2 linked regions of the Homo sapiens genome follow. The protein of the gene in region 1 purifies or fractionates together with the protein of each later gene. This does not show direct contact. Each region holds a gene or a part of one and is shown in the gene's direction. Other genes may lie near its edges.

Evidence for each region. Proteins that work in one complex are often made in the same cells at the same time.
Region 2: the proteins of ATG10 (region 1) and ATG7 purify together in Homo sapiens (affinity purification with mass spectrometry; 4 studies listed by BioGRID and IntAct, with this or other methods). This does not show direct contact.

The regions. Positions count from the first base shown.
Region 1 is NC_000005.10:82,247,998-82,255,030, forward strand, and holds part of ATG10 (ubiquitin-like-conjugating enzyme ATG10), read left to right. Parts: intron 1-4,564; coding exon 4,565-4,662; intron 4,663-5,316; coding exon 5,317-5,428; 3' UTR 5,429-5,432; intron 5,433-6,070; 3' UTR 6,071-7,033. UniProt on the Homo sapiens protein: E2-like enzyme involved in autophagy. Acts as an E2-like enzyme that catalyzes the conjugation of ATG12 to ATG5. ATG12 conjugation to ATG5 is required for autophagy. Likely serves as an ATG5-recognition molecule. Not involved in ATG12 conjugation to ATG3.
Region 2 is NC_000003.12:11,359,384-11,366,416, forward strand, and holds part of ATG7 (ubiquitin-like modifier-activating enzyme ATG7), read left to right. Parts: intron 1-1,197; coding exon 1,198-1,401; intron 1,402-3,429; coding exon 3,430-3,545; intron 3,546-5,275; coding exon 5,276-5,351; intron 5,352-7,033. UniProt on the Homo sapiens protein: E1-like activating enzyme involved in the 2 ubiquitin-like systems required for cytoplasm to vacuole transport (Cvt) and autophagy.

The DNA.
Region 1 (7,033 bases):
CAAATACCTCAAGCCTATAATGCTTTTTTCTTTTGCCAATGGATGTGTACGTGGATTGGGAACACGCTAAAAACTCAAGTAGTATTCATATTGGCCTTAGCTCTTACTTCCTATCAGGCCTTCTTGTGACTCCACTGAACATCCCCTTCCCATCAGCTAGTGATGCCTGGAGAACTTATCTACCCCTTCTGTGGCTGTCTTATTTCCAGAATGTCCCCATTAAATTACTGGTAGTTTGCTGCTTGCCTCAACTGGGACTGCAACCTCTGGCTAGCAGAGCTGCAGCTTTTTTCTTTTCATTTAGTACCTATTTTGCTATTTTTATTGACAGTGCTGCTGAGCAATAGTTTTAGCTATCTGTTGGAAATCAGGCCAGCCCCTCTGGCTACACAGTTATTGGCTCTTATGGCCAGATTGCTCTGGTAAAACTTCTGTTGATGGAGTGTCTGGGGACATTGGGGAAGAGGAGGAGGGGATATGGAAGTACTTCCAGGCAAGAAGGCTTCAGATTCCCTCTGTTTCTAACTTGAAGTTTAGCAGATTATCATGAACTAAACACGTCTCAGATTTTATATTTGCCCTTGGTTGATTTCCAGGACCCAAAAATGGTTAGTTTTTGACAATTTTGTTCATTTTTATATTTAATTTCTGGGGAGAGGATTTGCTGACCTCTTTATTCTATCACAGCTGGAAGTCCACTTCTGTTGTTATTAATTTATAAAATTCTTCTAAAAGATTACATATCTTATAATTCCTATTTTAAGCTGATCAGCATATTATAGGCTTGATTCTTTTGAACCAAAAGCATTTTGCCAAAACAATATAATTTTTATTTTAAAATCCAATTTATTAATAAATTTAAACTTTTAATTTTTAAAGACCATCATTCATTTTAATATATTCTATTTAATTATATAAATATAAGGTCTCAGTATAGTAAAGGATAAAGAATTTTTTAAAGATGGCCAAACCTGCATTAAAGAAATGCTTAAGCTATTCTAAAAGCTCTTCAAAGGCATGAAAGTCTCAATTATTTTAAAAAGTGTTTTAAATGACATTGCCATGCATTTTATTCTATTAGAACATAACCTTAAATGCTAATATGACTGTTTTATGTTCTTTGAGGAAAAATGAATATTAAAATGTTGTAGATTACTGAAGTGTTTTTGAAGTACCTAAACTTTTATTTTAATTTAAATTCATTTAAATTATTTTTCATTAATTTGGTTTTAAACCTGAATACAAATATAGTGATAGTTCTAGTTGCCATATAGACCTAGACCTTTTACTAATTCAGACCTTTCTTCCTTTCACTTATAAACAGTTGTCAAATATTCCTAAACACTTAGATACTGGTCAGTGATGCTTTTAATATGCTACTTAATTTACAGGAACGTCCTATTTTTAGATTGAAATTTGGCTTTATTATAGGGTACCATAAGACTACTTTCTGAATGTCTGGCTGTTATTCTTTTCTGTTTAGATATTAATGGGTTAAATACTAATAGCCAACTAAGTGTCTGCTATGTGTCAGGTACTGTTCTATGTACTTCTGTGGTATTATCTCATTGAAGGGTCACAGTCAATCTCTGAGACAGATACTATCATTAGCCACAGTTACCAGATGAGGAAACAGAGACGTAAAATGGTTAAGTGACTTTCCCAATAGCTCACAGCTACCAAGTGGTAGAGCAGGACTTGATCTCAAACAGTCTTAACCATAGAGCTCATGCATGTGCTTACCCACTTGCTATGTGGAATGAAAAAAAGATGACTTATAGAAGTAAAGTCCATGTCTTTACAAAGCAGCATCAAATGAGCAGAGCTGCAGTGTGCCATGGTCCTAAGACTCCTCTAAGAAAATGGTCCCCTGAACTGTAAGTGCCTATCCACCTCTTAGATAAGAAAGAGATGCCAAAGGGAAAGTGAGTCTTGGAGAGAGTGGAGGCTGCGTGATTGAACTGATCCTCCCTATTAGGAGTGTTTCCGTCTAGTGGAAATTTGTAACTGTAGGTTTCATTTCATTAAAGTCAACATGTACTTTACATCAATAAGATTGGATTATACCTCTTTATTCCTTCCATTGGCAACTATGTAAGTCATCCCAAAAGAATTTAGACTACATTTATCTTTTTTAAATCCCAGCTTTCTAAACAGTCATTGTTTTAGTCCAGGATAATTCTAAATTTTTTTGCATTTTTCCTGCATATTTTCTATGCTCATTTCCCCCATAGGGTCATCTGCCCCCACATTCTGTTCCCAAATCTCTGCATGGTTGTTTTTTTCCTTGTCGTTCTGATCTTTGATTAAGTTTCACCTTATTTTAGTCCATTTAGGCTGTCATAACAAAAATACCATAGACTGGGTGGCTCAAGAACCAACACTTATTTCTCCCAGTTCTGAAGGCTACAGGATCCAGGATGAGGGCACTGGAAGATCCAGTGTCTGGTGAGGACCCGTTTCCTATTTCATAGATGCCATCTTCTCACTGTATCCCCACATGATAGGAAAAGAGTGAGAGTTACACCTCTTAGGGTGTAACCCTAAGAGGGATACACACATTCAGTCCATTGTATTACCTCTTCCTTCAGGCCTTCCCTTTCCAAGTCTAATGTCACCACAATCCCTCCAGAATCATGTTACCCTGTTGTGTTTCCTTTGTAGGGCTTATAATTATCTGGATTATCTTATTTATTCGTTCTGTGTGTTTATTGGCTGTCTCCTGCACTGAAATCTAAGTTCCATGGGATCAGGAACATTGTTTATCTAAGAGATGCAGTGGTCTCTATAACTATAGCTAGAAGTATTCTGGCAGACACATAAAAAAGATGATTGATTAATATATGTTGAATTGCTAAATATTAGTTTAAGGCAGGTAAGGGAAACCAGATTCAAGTTGGACAGGAGGACTTGGCATAGGCCCAACACATCAGGGCTTTGAGCCCAGGGCCCAGTTAGGGATGGGAATGAAGGTTGGGAAGAGAGCTGTAGAGAGGAAGCTGATGCCTTGCTGGAAGAATCAGGCGACTGGTCAGAGTCACCTGGAGATGGCACTCAGGGAGAAACAAATGCCAGGTGGTGCTAAAAATGCCAGATACATGCAATAACCTATCACTAGTGGATAACTCATCCCTCACCACCACCACCCCAAATCTCCATACCCAGTGTCACCAATACAAGAGGAATTGTCCCTTCCAGTTCTTGTGAGTGGATATGTGCATAAGCATACAGACATGAATGTTTGGAGCTGAGGGGTAGAGGCAGCAAGGACAGCCACATAATTCATCCCATCAACAGCTCTGAGTTCAGCTTCCCCTTGGGTTGGCTGAGAGAAGAAGCCAAGAGAAGAAACTAGGCATCCCCTAGTCTAAATCCAGCCTACAAGCCTGTTTTACTTGTCCCACTCCATGTTTAAAAATAAATTATGCCAACACTTAAATGTAGGAGGTTTAACATAAACTTCAGCTTTTCTAGGTTAGTTTCACAAATAGGGAGGTCTGGCATGCTGAACCTGCATTCCCACATGGGACAGTTGGCTGGAGCAGAGTAGCCAGCATGGCCTTGGATGGGTGCACTCGGCAGTTTCTCACGGGCCCCGTCATCTGCTGGTGTATTTAGCTGGCATTATCCCCTTAGGTCACCTGCTTTGTCTTCATAGGTATTTGAGTTTGCAGTGTTGGTATAATGGTTAATCCACAATACAAATAATCAATAAATGTATCATCAATAATAGTGTTTTTGTTGGTAGAACTTGTGCACAGATTACCCACTACATAGAAACCTCCTAGGGCTCCCCATTGCTTGCCAAATGATGTCCACGTCCCTAACTTGGGTATGGTCTGACCTATATCTTATATCCAATTACTACCTTATAAAAGAAACAGAGTTACATTTCAGGCTTTTAACTTATAAAAACAGCCCTGTAGGCTTGGGAGAGACAGAAGGAGAGAAATGAGGAAAAAGAAAAACAAAAACTCAGAGACGGAAAGAGAGAGAGAGACAAACAGAAGTAGAACAATTTAAATAGTGCAGGCCATCTCCTCCCATCCCTGGTTCTACTCGTGGAACATGTGCCCACTGGCACTGGATACATGTAGGCTTGAAACAACATGTTGACAAAATTTGTGTAAAGAAATATGCAAATGATTTTGAGTCTCTTACCATTGACAAAGAGGTGAATAAAATGAATTGTTTAGGTTGTCAAACTACTGAGCTTTGTGAACATCCTTGAAGAAAAACTGAAGAATAATGATAGGCCAAAGAGAAACACTGGCCAACAGAGAGGGAACTGATAAAATGCAACTACAGTTTATATTGTGTAAACAAAAATGGGTGCCCTGCTATACTCGACCATACTGCTTTATCAATGAATAGTCCTTTCTCACCAACTTCTTCTGATGTTTGGATTATAAATTGTTTTTAAAAATAGAAAATAAACCTGTATATTAATTCAATAACTTGGAATTTGAGACAAACCTTTATTTTAAAGGAGTAAACCAGATAAATTATTTTAGCCTTTTCAAAGTAACTCACACTGATCCTGGACCAATTCTGATTCTTACAGGAACATCCAATACTTGGGCAACCCTTTTTTGTACTTCATCCCTGCAAGACGAATGAATTCATGACTCCTGTATTAAAGAATTCTCAGAAAATCAATAAGTAAGAAACACCATCAAGATACATTGGCTTCTACTCTGATTTTAAAAGTGTAAATCTTTTTATGTGACTCTAAATGCTAGGCTAAAAAAGAAATATTAATAATAATAATGGCTAACACAATGATTTTTAGGATATGCTAGATGCTGTTCTAAGAGTTTTAGATACAGTAAGACATTGGATTTTTGCAGCATTCCTATGTGCTAAGTACTATTATTTTGCCCAATTTACAGAGGAGGAAGTTACAGAACAGAGGAGTTAAGCCACTCAAACAAGGTCACACAGCTAGTTAAGTGGTGGGATTTGAATCTAAGCATTTTGGCCTCAGAACCATGCTCTTAATCACTGCACTCTGCTACCTTAGTAAGTGCTGTAAACTGTAAGGGTAAAATTTGAATCATCAAGGGAAGTCAGGAGCCAGTACCTTACCTCATTCTTCAACTACCCTAATGAGGGATCCTTACAGGCTCTCTGGACCTTAAATTCTTGTCAAGCAATGGGGCTGGCATTCAGAAATGCTGAGATTCCAGGTGGTAGGTACAAATCTTTGAAGAAAGCCTCACTTTTGTTATTGTTGGTGACCAACTGATGTTCTACCATTCATCCAAAAACTACAATGGAAACGTTAGCATGGCCTGTATTTCACTTGTTTCCTAGGAATGTCAACTATATCACATCATGGCTGAGCATTGTAGGGCCAGTTGTTGGGCTGAATCTACCTCTGAGTTATGCCAAAGCAACGTCTCAGGATGAACGAAATGTCCCTTAACAAGGTAAAAGAAAAGCCTGGATTTAATGTTTTGCCGTTACAAAGATCAATGTCTCCATTGCATTTAGACTCATCCCACCAAATGCAAAATTTGCTTTCATCTTTAGTGGGCAAACCCTGACTTAATTTTTAGTTTTCCAATCAGTCCCCTACCAAGTTATTTAGGACAGGGATCCCCAAATCCCAGGCCATGGACCGGAACCAGGCCTCACAGCAGGAGGTGAGCGGCAGCTGGGTGGGCAAGCAAGCGAGCATTACCACCTGAGCTCTTCCTCCTATCAGATCAGCTGCAGCATTGGATCTGCATAGGAATGTGAACCCTATTGTGAACTGCGCATCTGAGGGACCTAGGTTGCGCGCTCCTTATGAGATTCTAACCAATGCCTGATGATCTGAGGTGGAACAGTTTCATCCTGAAACCATCTCCCATTCGGTCTGTGAAAATGGTTTTCCCTGAAACTGGTGCCTGGTGCCAAAAAGGTTGGGGGCCACCAATTCAGGAAATATTTTACTTTGCTGTAAGTAGCATGCACTCAGTGACAGGAATGGATAGTTTTATTTTAGTACTGATATTCTTAAATAAGTCTTTACTGCTCAGTTATTTTTCTTTTATTCTCTTGGCTTTTGTTTTATGTTCTTCAGATTCTTCTATTGAGTTTAGGAATTGCGGCACGAAGAATGCCAAGAGTTTACCTGGCCAGCCCTGGCTTTAATAGGACTGATACCATGGAATATTTCATCTCACCAAGATGTGACATGGATTATTTTTCCCTTGGACACAAATGTCTACAGCAACTGGTGTTTGATAGGCTGAATGTTTAGAAGAAACACTTCAAAGGGATACATCATGGCCAGGCATGGTGGCTCACACCTGTAATCCAAGCACTTTGGGAGGCCAAGGTGGGAGCATCACTTGATCCTGGGAGTTCGAGACCAGCCTGGGCAACATGGTGAAACCCTGTCGGTACAAAAAAATACAAAAATTTGCCTGTTTATGGTGGTGTGTTCCTGTAGTCCCAGCTCCCCAGGAGGCTGAGGTGGGAGGTTGGCTTTAACCCAGGAGGCAGAGGTTGCAGTGAGCTGAGACTGTGCCACTGCAGTCCAGCCTGGGTGACAGAGCCAGACACTGTCTCGGGGAAAAAAAAAAAAAAAAAAAGACACATCACTATAAATAGCAAAAAAACAAATCTAACTTATTAATACTAGGAATACCAACATTATTAGGGCACTTGCAGGTTATTCTTTTCTAGGCCAAGTACTTCACTTCCATTTGTCTGACATGGAGATTGAGGGAGAAATGTATTTGTGTGTTCATTTTAATGTAAGATATATAAAAATTAAATTACTGGATTTACCTGTCCCTGAAACTGGTGTTATAAACATGACCTATCTTAAGTGATTTTCCCACAATCAAACTCAGGAACAATAGATTATTTCTGTTTTACTCCAAAAGAGAGAGAGAGAGTGAGTGTGAGTGTGTGTGTGTGTGTGTGTGTATGTGTGGGTGTTTGTGTAGATAGTTGTAAAACAAAGAAAAAACACAATATTTTACTGTGAGATAATATGTTTTACCAGCAAAGTGTGGCATAGTAATTAGAAGTTTTC
Region 2 (7,033 bases), on another chromosome or scaffold:
TTATAGTATAATGAAAAAACGGTTTCTTAAAAATTTATGTGTTGGGCTGGACATGGTGGCTCACATCTGTATCCTAGCACTTTGGGAGGATTGCTTGACCCAGGAGTTTGAGACTAGCCTGGGCAACATGGTGAGACTCTCTCTCTAGAAGAAAAACAAAAAATTAGCTAGGTGTGGTGATGCACACCCGTGCTCCCAGCTACTCAGGAGGGTGAGGCAGGAAGATCACTTGAGCCTGGGAGGTTGAGGCTGCAGTGAACCGAGATCACGCCATTGCATTCCAGCCTGGGCAACGGAGTGAGATCCTGTCTCAAAAAAACCCCAAAGAAACAAAAAAACAAAAAAAAACCAACTATGCGGAGCCAGGCATGGTGGCATGTGCCTGTAATTCCAGCTACTGGGATACCAAAAAAATTCTATGTGAAGGGTGAATTATATGGTATGTGAGTTATATCTCAATAAAGCTGTTATAAAAACAAATCTATGTGAACATGACAGTATAGCATAATGGTGGAAAGAATGTGTTTGAGAACTATGTAGACTTGGTTTTATATACCTACCTCTTGCCAGATAAGTGACCTTGGGCAAGTTATAGAACTAACTTCTCTGACTTTCAGTATCCTCATCTATAAATAAGAAATGTTTGTTATGAGTTTTTTTGTTTGCTTTTTTCTTTTTCAGAGATAGAATCTTGCTCTGTCACCCAGGCTGGAGTGCAGTGGCGGAATCTCGGCTCACTGCAAACTCCATCTCCCAGGTTCAAGCATTTCTCATGCCTCTGCCTCCTGAGTAGCTGCGACTACTGGCGCAAGCCATCATGCTCGGCTAATTTTTTGTATTTTTAATAGAGACAGGGTTTCGTCATGTTGCCAGGCTGGTCTCGAACTCCTGACCTCAGACAGTCTGCCCGCCTTGGCCTCCCAAAGTGCTGGGATTACAGGTTATGAGCCACTATACCTGGTCTGTTATGAGTTTCAAATGAAATTAAATGAGATAATTTATGTTCATCACTTATCAAGTCTTTTGTAATTAATAAGCCCTCAGTAGTGGGTAGATTTTATCATCATTAGCTTTTATAATCTAATTACACTTACATGCAAAAAATAAATTTTAAAAAGTTGAGCAAATATGGAATTAGCCACAGCTTGAAATATATGTGTCTTTTAACTCTGCTCTTTCATTCCTTGAAACCTGCAGCTGGTCATCAATGCTGCTTTGGGATTTGACACATTTGTTGTCATGAGACATGGTCTGAAGAAACCAAAGCAGCAAGGAGCTGGGGACTTGTGTCCAAACCACCCTGTGGCATCTGCTGACCTCCTGGGCTCATCGCTTTTTGCCAACATCCCTGGTTACAAGCTTGGCTGCTACTTCTGCAATGATGTGGTGGCCCCAGGAGATGTAAGTGGATTTCTCTATAGTTCCAAATATTTCCTATCACCAACTTGTACACTGAGGCAGACCGACTTGGCCCTTTCATTTATGACTATTTAAATATTATCTTTTAACAAAGAGAAGAATTCTCCAATTTGGGGAGGATGGCATTATCTCATTATGAACCTTGACTGGCGTCATCAACTGTACACCTGTTCCTTGTTCACCAATATAAACGCGGCTACAAACCATATTTTTGGAAAGCTTATTGAGGAAACCACAGCAGACTAGTCCCTGATAGCACTCCGTATTGTCTCCGGTGCTTCTCTTAGTCAAGATAACATTACAAATCAGGAGTCTAAAGACCAGATTCCATCAATGGCTTGACACTGCCTCCCAGGTAGTTCTAAAAAGTCTCTTAGGTTCCCTCTACCTTTGCAAAATAGGAGTGATGTGTAGGCTTGTCAGATTTAGTAAGTAAAAATATAGGATTCCCAGCTAACTTTGAATTTCAGTTAATAATGAATTCTTTTTTTTTTTTTTTTGAGACAGAGTTTCGCCCTGTCACCCAGGCTCGAGTGCAGTGGCACAATCTCGGCTCCCTGCAACCTCTGCCTCCTGGGTTCAAGTGATTCTCCTGCCTCAGCCTCCTGAGTAGCTGAGATTACAGGTGTGTGCCACCATGCCCAGCTAATTTTTGTATTTTTAGTAGAGACGGGGTTTCACCATGTTGGTCTGGCTGGTCTCGAACTCCTGACCTCGTGATCCACCTGCCTCAGTCTCCCAAAGTGCTGGGATTACAGGTGTGAGCCACCACGCTTAGCCAATAATGAATAATTTTTTGGTATATGTCCCATGCAATATTCAAGACCCACTTATACTAAAAATTTATTTATCTGAAATTCAAATTTAACTGAGTGTCTTGTATTCTCCCTAGCAATGCTAATAGAGGAGGGAAGAATACCTGCCCTGTCAACTCACAGTGCAAAGTGGGTCAAGTGCGACAGTGCTTTGAACAGCAAGACTACACTGTACAAATTAAGATTCTATGACTTTCAGAACTCCACACAAGTCAGTCTGTATGTAGGTCTGTTCCTTTATCAGAACAGATAACGATTTCCAGTGAAACAATGCAGAGATGTTTTCTGTAACCTCCCCTCTATTTTTCCTTTGTTTTAAAACTTTTCCCTTAATAACTCATATCTCTTTTGGATGACTGGCTTTTATGCCCTCCCAATATAAAGAAAAGAAGATGACCATTCTCTTTTATGGAGAAAGATGGCTTGATGATCTCTGTTATGGTGTTATAATATATAGCTGGTCTTGTTATTTAGTGATTGTCAACAAATACGATTAGTGGTCCCTTGCAGTAAAGTCCCATCTGCTCATAAGGTAAAATTTTTATAGAGTCAAAAATATCTCTAACAACCTCTTAATTTGCCCAGAGTTGGATGGTTAGACTCTCTTTGGTTGAACCAGCAAAGGCTTGTGCTTAGAGCCATGTTGTAGAAAAAAAAAATACTTGTAGTAAACCCTAGAATCACACAGAGAGGTGATGCCCATGTTGTGAGAGGCACATAGGAACTGAGGGCCGCAGGAATAGTAAATTGTTGCTCCCATCTCACGGTCACTTTGAGGTGTTAGCTCAGTTAAAATGGCAGGGCAGAATCATTTGCACTTTTCAAATCATTGTTCCTTTCTGTGTCTCTGTCACTTAACTACCAAGCACAGTAGAACTGAATTGAGTCACTTAAAGGAACACATGATGCAGTTCCATTATATGAGGCAGCTAAGCCCTCATTTTTGGTTAATATCCCCCAATCTGTTTAGGCTACTGATCCTTTTTAGCATATCACCTCATTTAGTTACCTAAATTGTATATTTTGTTTATCTTGATAATCTCAAGAAATGATGTACTTGAGGCTGGATGTTCTTTGCCAACAATGAGCATCTGGTTATAATTTAAAGCTTTGTCACAGAGGATTTCATACTTGAGACAGCTAGAGTTGAATGGAGTAGAACGTTCTGCACACACCAATGATTGTTTCTTTGCAGTCAACCAGAGACCGGACCTTGGACCAGCAGTGCACTGTGAGTCGTCCAGGACTGGCCGTGATTGCAGGAGCCCTGGCCGTGGAATTGATGGTATCTGTTTTGCAGCATCCAGAAGGGTGAGTTTGCTAGTAGGAGATGAGTATTTAAACAAAGCTTTTGTAGGCAGTTGTTCATCAGTGTCTCCCATGGCCTTTTCTCAGTCTGACTTTACAGAGAATTTCACTATTTCACCCTCAAAAAAACAAGACTAGAAAAAGCAGGTCTGGTTCTTTGGGCTGAGATAACTTGGCATGTTTCCTTTGTGGCCACATTTCTGCATCTTTCCGGACAAAGTCACTATGGTTTATTTTATTTTTCCAACGCTTATATAGGGCTTACTTTGTGCTAGGCACTGTTCTAAGCACCTTAGAAATTTTGCCTCCTTCAATCTTTTTTTTTTTTTTTAACGAGACGGAATTTCGCTCTTGTTGCCCAGGCTGGAGTGTAATGGCACGATTTTGGCTCACTGCAACCTCTGCCTTCTAGGTTCAAGTGATTCTCCTGCCTCAGCCTCCCAAGTAGCTGGAATTACAGGCATACGCCACCATGCCCGGCTGATTTTTGTATTTTTAGTAGAGATGGGGTTTTGCCATGTTGGTCAGGCTAGTCTTGAACCTCTGACCTCAGTGATCAGAAGTGATTCACCCACCTTATCCTCCCAAAGTGTTGGGATTACAGGCGTGAGCCATTGCACCCGGCCTCCTTTAATCTTCATAGCAAACATATTAGGAAAGAACTATTATTATTAGTCGCAGTTTTGATGGGGAAATCAAGGCATAGTGAGGATAAGTAAGTGGCCAAATTTACATAGTAAATGGAAAAGCCAGGGTTTAGCTCAACCAGTGTGGCTCCAGACTATGTTTAATGACTTTGTTATGCTGTTTGCAATACAGGCAGCAGAAAATCGAATTTTTGAAAGATTTATTTTTCCAGTTCTCAGAAAGTCAATATGCAAATTAACATGAATATTCTATTTCTTGTGTGACTCAAAGCTTTCCTCAGCAGTTGAAAATTGTGGTTGTATATGTAACTAGTATGGGTACTCTGAGATAAATGAAAAGCGGGGCTTTTTTGTCTTCCTCTTTGTCATCCACCTTAGCTATCTGTCATTTAAGTTTATTGCCACTCTCTGACAGGAAGTATTTGGGATAAAATCTTTGAGAGCTGACTTTATGCTTCCTTGACACTGAGCCTCTGTCTGCCACATTTGCCCTGGTCATAGTTTAAACACCAGGTCCTGTGTCACATCTTTTTGGTGCCACAAGTATCACTCCATTGTTCAGAGAGTAGTGTATTAGTTCTGCCCAATTCATTCTTCACTTTTATTTCTTCCATTTCATTAGCATTTATATCAGCTCAAGAAGTTAAGGTTAGAAAATTTTCCACTTCAAATTTTCAGTACAGAAATGTGCTGTGATGTTTGACAAGACTATTTCATAGTAAGTGAGTTAATGTTTATTGGCCTCTGATATGCCGAACATTGCACTCGGCAGTTGATGTAGTAGATTCCTCATTTATTAATCAGAGCTCCCTCATTCCTACTTTATAGATGATGGATCTGAAGCACAGAAAAGTTAAGCAACTTGCCTATGGTCACAAGCTCAGGTCTTTCTGACTCCAAACCATGCATGTTTAAATTACTCTTCTTGCCCTTTGTCCCAGGGAAATTAGTTTTTTGCTAACTTACACTGCCCAGCAAGGGGCATTTTAGTTATCCTTATGAATCTTATGTAGATTTCTGCTAGATCATCCTCCCATGTGTTAAACTTGGATTAAATGAGCAGCTCTGATTGTTTCCTGTCCTCAGGGGCTATGCCATTGCCAGCAGCAGTGACGATCGGATGAATGAGCCTCCAACCTCTCTTGGGCTTGTGCCTCACCAGGTTAGTGATGTGGAAGTGAAATCACAATTCTTTTGGTACAGGGGGAAAGCATGTGGGGTCTCTTTGCCATTCCATCTGCCCAGCCCACTTCATATCCACCCTACTTACCCTGCAGCTGGGATTTCAATGGGAGAGCTTTCTGACCACCTGGAAGGTATTCCATTCTGCGGGATAGTGATGGGAGGAAATCACGAACGAGAAGCATTGCCCAGAGTCTTTGATGCGTTTTGTAAACTGACTAGAGGCCTCATAATGCAATAGGAACAGAAAAAACAGGCTTTGGAATCAGTCATACAATGGTTTAAATCCCAGCCCTGCCGTTATAAAGATGGCCTTCTTTGGCCAAGTCACTAAACTTCTCTGAGGCTTAGTTTTCTTATCTGTAACATAGAGAAGGTAATGCTGACATCACCTGGTAGTTGTATGGATTATGGATGGTTGCTAGAAAGGGCTCAGCAACAGTGTATATCATAGGCCCTCAACAAACAATGCCTGCTGTTTCTTTACTGTTGCTTGTTATTATTATTGACTCTGAACCCAAATAGAAAACCTTTATAGGCAGGCATGAGAAAAACATTAGAAGCATGCAGGGTCACCAAAAAGTGGGGTGTCTTTTCAGAAAAAGAATCCAAAGCATCATGAGGAAGTTCCATCCCTTAGGGAGTAAAAAGAAAAAGGCAGTGGGATGATCTTTTAGAATTCATGTTGCCTCTTCAGTCATTTTCATTACTATATTTTTGGGAGATTGAAGAGGTTTTCCAGTCTTATTTGGAAATCATTTTTTTTTAGATTCCATGTATGTATCCTCTCCTGTAATGTGACTGCTGTTCCCATCAGTGAAATCGTGATGGTGCCCACCAGTCCTATCTGGTGATTTGCAAGGACAGACTCAGACGAGTGCAGAGAGCAGAGTGACTCAGCTCATGCTTGTCTCTCTCTTCCTCCTCGCCACCCACCTTCTGCCAGCTAGGGCGGCACTGTCATATTCAGTTTAGGATGAGAATCAGAAGAGGGGAAACGACTTCTTCATGGTCACAGAGACTTAGTGGATGAGCCACAATCCATACCTAAACTTGGCAGTCTGACAAATGTTCTTTCAAAGGTCTTGTGAGTTGAAAGATCCGTGGCCTGCATGTTGGGAGATTTTGCTTCCTGTTGGTACCCCAGCCCCCTTGCACAAAACCACCCATAATAGAACTTGTGGGCCGGGCGCGGTGACTCATGCCTGTAATTCCAGCACTTTGGGAGGCCGAGGCGGGTGGATCACGAGGAGAGGAGTTTGAGACCAGCCTGACCAACATGGTGAAACCCCGTCTCTACTAAAAATACAAAAATTAGCTGAGCGTGATAGTGTGCACCTGTAATCCCAGCTACTCAGGAGGCTGAGGCAGGAGAATCGCTTGAACCCGGGAGGTGGAGGGTTGCAGTGAGCTAAGATCGCGCCATTGCACTGTGGCCTGGGCGACAGAGTGAGACTCCATCTCAAAAAAAAAAAAAAAAAAAATAGAACTTGTAGAGTTCACTTAGCCTCCCAGAGTCTCAGTTTCCAAATCAAGAAAAGCAGGTGCTTTACTTTGTGTCCAGGATTACATCTGACACGGCCTTGAAAACCACAAAACACTATGAAAATGTGCCCCCCTCTGTCCCCCACACACAAGGTGGCATTTTTTTTTGACATGCAT